Homo sapiens: one gene and its partner. The protein of the gene in region 2 interacts with the protein of the main gene of each other region in a pairwise test. Each region holds a gene or a part of one and is shown on either strand. Other genes may lie near its edges.

What was found. The genes of interacting proteins can lie anywhere in the genome.
Region 1: the proteins of SHFL (region 2) and KIF1B interact in binary tests that used the Homo sapiens proteins (3 or more experiments, as listed by UniProt).

What each region holds. Positions count from the first base shown.
Region 1 is NC_000001.11:10,364,070-10,367,569, forward strand, and holds part of KIF1B (kinesin-like protein KIF1B), read left to right. Parts: intron 1-1,030; coding exon 1,031-1,176; intron 1,177-1,339; coding exon 1,340-1,579; intron 1,580-3,500. UniProt on the Homo sapiens protein: Has a plus-end-directed microtubule motor activity and functions as a motor for transport of vesicles and organelles along microtubules.
Region 2 is NC_000019.10:10,089,317-10,091,529, forward strand, and holds part of SHFL (shiftless antiviral inhibitor of ribosomal frameshifting protein), read left to right. Parts: coding exon of another isoform or gene 1-62; intron 63-162; coding exon of another isoform or gene 163-173; exon of another isoform or gene 174-334; intron 335-340; coding exon 341-379; intron 380-581; coding exon 582-731; intron 732-1,933; coding exon 1,934-2,037; exon of another isoform or gene 2,038-2,159; coding exon 2,160-2,213.

The sequences.
Region 1 (3,500 bases), on a different chromosome or scaffold from region 2:
AAAAAATTAACAGGAAATAATAGAGGCTAAAGTTCTCTGTCATCTGTCAGCCAGTGAGCTACTGAGTGTGTGTATGTGTGTGTGTATTCCCTTCCGTCTTTTTAAAAATTTTTATTTTTAGGGACAGGATCTTTTTTTTTTTTTTTTTTTTTTGAGACAGAGTCTCGCTGTGTCACCCAGGCTGGAGTGTGGTGGCGCCATCTTGGCTCACTGCAACCTCTGCCTCCTGGGTTCAAGTGATTCTCCTGCCTCAGCCTCCTGAGTAGCTGGGTTTGCAAGCACCCACCACCATGCCCAGCTAATTTTTGTATTTTTAGTAGAGATGGGGTTTCACTATGTTGGCCAGGCTGGTCTCGAACTCCTGACCTCAGATGATAGCCCACCTCAGCCTCCCAAAGTGCTGGGATTACAGGCGTGAGCCATCACGCCCGGCCCCATAGTGTATAGACTACTACAGACTATTTAATATTTCTGCATTTTCACCTAACATCATAATTTTATCATTTTCTTAAATTGCATCCCAGTCTTCATAATTATCAAAGAATGTAAAACTCAGTTTTTAAAAACGTTCAGTTGCTTTGCTATTTAAACAAAATCCCATATATCTTCAGACCAAACTGTCTTAGTTTGCTACGTATAAGAATTATTAATTCGTGGCCAGGCGCGGTGGCTCACGCCTGTAATTCCAGCACTTTGGGAGGCTGAGGCAGGTGGATCACGAGGTCAGGAGATCGAGACCATCCTGGCTAACACAGTGAAACCCGGTCTCTACTAAAAATACAAAAAATTAGCTGGGCATGGTGGCGGGCACCTGTAGTCTCAGCTACTCGGGAGGCTGAGGCAGGAGAATGGCATGAACCCAGGAGGCGGAGCTTGCAGTGGGCTGAGATCACGCCACTGCACTCCAGCCTGGGCAACAGAGCGAGACTCCATCTCAAAAAAAAAAAAAAAAGAATTATTAATTCGTTTTGACCTAAACTTGGAATTGAATTTTTTTTCTGAAACAAAAACTTGTTTCCTCTTGTCTTAGGTATGCAGAGAAGGAGAAGAAAAATCTTAGATACGTCAGTGGCATATGTGCGGGGAGAAGAGAACTTAGCAGGCTGGCGGCCCCGTGGAGACAGCCTCATCCTTGAGCACCAGTGGGAGCTGGAGAAGCTGGAGCTCCTACATGAGGTATCCAGGGGCAGGGTTGTTCAGATGCAAGAACTCTCGGACAAGATTGCCAAAGTATCAGTCTTCCTCCCCGCTGCTGCATGTGATCATAGCTTTTCACTTTTCTCTCCTGAGGTCTTAACGAGCTTTGTGTTTGCTATAGCAGTAGTATTGATCTTCTCAGGTGGAAAAAACCCGCCACTTTTTGCTGCTGCGTGAGAGACTTGGTGACAGCATCCCCAAATCCCTGAGCGACTCGTTATCCCCCAGCCTCAGCAGTGGGACCCTCAGCACCTCCACCAGTATCTCCTCTCAGATCTCAACCACTACCTTTGAAAGCGCCATCACACCTAGCGAGAGCAGTGGCTATGATTCAGGAGACATCGAAAGCCTGGTGGACCGAGAGAAAGAGCTGGCTACCAAGGTGTGAATCCCTTCCTCTTTGCTGAACGTCTTCCCACAAGGCTCCACAAACTAGCCTCTCGGTTTATTCATTTTCAACACCTTTGTTCGAGGTGTTTGAAGGCCTGTGATAATACTGTGAATGTAGAAATAAAAAGACGCAGTTCCTACCCTCAACAAGCTTACAGGGCCAGGCACAGTGCCTGATGCCTATTATCCCACCACTTTGGGAGGCTGAAGCAAAGGGATTGCTTGAGCCCAGGAGTTAAAGACAAGCCCAGGCTAACATAGTGAGACCTTGTCTCTACAAAAACAAAAATTAGGCCAGGCATGGTGGCTCACACCTGTAATCCCAGCACTTTGCAGGGCTGAGGCAGGTGGATTACCTGAGGTCTGGAGTTCGAGACCAGCCTGGCCAACATGGTGAAACCCTGTCTCTACTAAAAATACAAAAATTAGCCAGGCGTGGTGGCGAGCGCCTGTAATCCCAGCTACTCAGGAGGCTGAGGCAGGAGAATTGCTTGAACCCAGGAGGCGGAGATTGCAGTGAGCCGAGATAGCTCCACTGTGCTCCAGCCTGAGCGACAGAGTGACACTCCATCTCAAAAAATAAAATAAAATAATAAAAAATTAAAAAATTAAAAAATATAAAGGTTGCAGAATATTAGGTCACAAGCATATAATAGAGATGTGTGTTTCAAATGCTATGGGAGTCAGAGGAGAAGTGTCTATGGTGGGGAGCTCATGAGCTGACCTTGAAAGGATGCGCAGGAGGGAGGCAGCAGTGTCGACACCTGCGTGATCAGGAGGGAGGCAGTGGTGTCCTGCGTGATCAGGAGGGAGGCAGCGGTGTCTTGCGTGATCAGGAGGGAGGCAGCGGTGTCCTGCGTGATCAGGAGGGAGGCAGTGGTGTCCTGCATGATCAGTCTTGGGGAATTCACGTGGGACTGGAACAGGAGGTGTGGAGTGAAGAATCTTGTATACTGCACTGAAGAGTTTAGAGTGGATGATGGGAGCAAGGCAGAAATATGTTAAACAGGTATTTGTGTTTTAGAAAGATTTCTGGCGAGGGGCGGTGGCTCACGCCTGTAATCCCACCACTTTGAGAGGCCGAGGCAGGTGGATCACAAGGTCAGGAGATTGAGACCATCCTGGCCAACATGGTGAAACCCCGTGTCTACTAAAAATACAAAAATTAGCCGAACGTGGTGGCGTGCGCCTGTAGTCCCAGCTACTAAGGAGGCTGAGGCAGGAGAATCGCTTGAACCCAGGTGGCGGAGGCTGCAGTGAGCCGAGATCGCGCCACTGCACTCCAGCCTGGGCAACAGAGTGAGACACCATCTCAAAAAATATATATATTTCTCTGGCAGCAATAAAGAGAATGGATTGATGGTGAAGAGATACACTGAGGAAGGGAGAATTCTTTATCTTTATTACAGTAATCTGATGAGAAATGATAAAAGCTTTTTAAAATTTTATTTTTTTTGAGATGGAGTCTCACTCCTGTCACACAGGCTGGGATGCAGTGGCATGATCTTGGCTCACTGCAACCTCCACTTCCCAGGTTCAAGCGATTCTCCTTCCTCAGCCTCCCAAGTAGCTTGGAGTACAGGCATGTGCCACCACACCTGGCTAATTTTTGTATTTTTAGTAGAGACAGAGTTTCACCATGTTGGCCAGGCTGGTCTTGAACTCCTGACCTCAGGTGATCCACCCGCCTCAGCCTCCCAAAGTGCTAGGATTACAGGTGTGTGGACGCCCAGCCAGATAAAAGTTTTTTAAAGAAGGCAGAGGTGGCTGGGTGCGGTGGCACACGCCTGTAATCCCAGCACTTTGGGAGGCTGAGGTGGGCGGATTGTGAGGTCAAGAGATCACTATGATGTTTTTATTTTTTATTTTTATCTTTATTAAATTTTTTTTTTTTTTGAGATGGAGTCTTGCTC
Region 2 (2,213 bases):
CGTGGCCTCAAAGGGGCGATATGTCACAACATCAACAAGCATGTGGCATTTGCAGGCAGGAAGTGAGTATGGGGGTCAGGCTAGCCTCACTCAGGCAAGCCCTCCCCTAAGCCTCAGTTTCCCCATCTGAGCAATAAGGTAACAGGTGTGCCCACCTCTCAGGGCTGCTATGAGGACAACTGAGGCCACACACCTGGCTCTCAATAAGTGAGTGGTGCTCTGTGAGCTTCTGGCGAGTTAGGGGCACCCTACTCATTGCGGCCGGGGGCCTCCCCCAGCAAACGGGTGGAAAGAGGCCTGAGCCCCATCCCCAGTTTCTGCCCCTGCTATCTCCACCCAGGATCCACCAGAAGATATGAAGCAGGACCGGGACATTCAGGTGAGTTGGTGGCTAGGGCTTGGGATGGGGGAGTTGGGAGGGGGACATCTGCAGGCACAGAAGGATGTCCATTAGGGCAGGAGGGGAGATATTCACTGGGGCAGGAAGAGGACTCGTCTGTAGGGAGAGGAGGGCTGATGCTTATGTTGGTGCAGAAGGGGTGACACCCCCCCACCTCATCCCCACCTGCCCCATTCCACAGGCAGTGGCGACCTCCCTCCTGCCACTGACAGAAGCCAACCTACGCATGTTTCAACGTGCCCAGGACGACCTTATCCCTGCTGTGGACCGGCAGTTTGCCTGCTCCTCCTGCGACCACGTCTGGTGGCGCCGCGTGCCCCAGCGGAAGGAGGTGATGACCTAAAACTTAACCTCGACTTTGACTGTCCCGAACTCCACTCCTGACTCCTATCCTCAGTGACTGTACCTCTGACCTAAGGATTTCAATCACTGAGAGTCCAATCCCTGACCTCCAAACTCAGAGCTCAGCCTTGATCTCTGATCCCAACCCCTGACCCAGGACTGGACTTCTGACCTTAAATGTGAGAAGCCCAATACCTCCTTACCCCAGAACCTGACCCTTGACCCACAATTGAACAGCTACTACAGAAATCAAACCTGGCCAGGCGCAGTGGCTCATGGCTGCAATCTCAGTGTTTTGGGAGGCTAAGTAGGGAGGATCGCTTGAATTTAGGAGTTTGAGACCAGCCTGGGTGACAGGGTGAGACCCTGTCTCCAAAAAAAAATGTGTTTTGAAGACAGGGGGTCTCGCCCTGTCACCCAGGCTGGAGTGCAGTGGCGGGATCATAGCTCACTGCAGCCTCCACCTCCTGGCCTCAGGTGATCCTCCCACCTCAACCTCCCAAGCAGCTGGGACTACAGGCCTGCGCCACCACACTTGGCTAATTTTTGTATTTTGTGTGTGTGTGTGGAGATGGGGTTTTGCCATGTTGCCCAAGCTGGTCTCAAACTCCTGGGCTCAAGCAATCTACCACCTCAGCCTCCCAAAGTGCTGGGATTACAGGCATGAGCCACTGTGCCTGGCAAAAAAAAATTTTTTTAATTAGCTGGGAGTGGTGGTGTGTGCCTGTGGTCCCAACTACTCAGGAGGCTGAGGTGGGAGGATCGTTTGAGCCTGGGAGGTCGAGGCTGCAGTAAGCCATGATCACAACACTGCATTCCAGCCTGGGTGACAGAGCAAGACTCTGTCTCTAAAAAAAAAAAGAAAGAAAGAAAAGAAACCAAATCTGACCTCAAAAACACAGCCCCAAATCTGGCTTCTGAACCTCCTGACTAGTAGTTCACTTCTGGTCAATGCTTAACTAGTTCTTGCAAAAGAGGCAGGAAGCCAAGATGTGTAGTGTTTGCCAATTTCTGTGGTGTAAATATTCCCACCATGGTCAATATCAGGCTACCCACGTGAAGTCACTGATTGAGTTGGGTTGCTCAAGCTGAGGCCAGCCGCTGCAGCACACTGCTAGCCCTGACCCCAACCTCAGACACCTCTGACAATCCTTGGTCCCCTCTCTGTACCTTCCTGCCCACCACCACCAGGTATCCCGGTGCCGGAAATGCCGGAAGCGCTACGAGCCAGTGCCAGCTGACAAGATGTGGGGCCTGGCTGAGTTCCACTGCCCGAAGTGTCGGCACAACTTCCGGTGAGGGCGCTGACCCCCAGCTCCCCCTCAGCCCTGCCCTACCCCAGCCCTGCCCCTCCCTGCCCTGGCCCCACCCTGGCCCAGCCTCGCCCTCGGACCCTCACAGCCCTGCCCGCCCCCAGGGGCTGGGCACAGATGGGGTCCCCGTCCCCCTGCTACGGGTGCGGCTTCCCCGT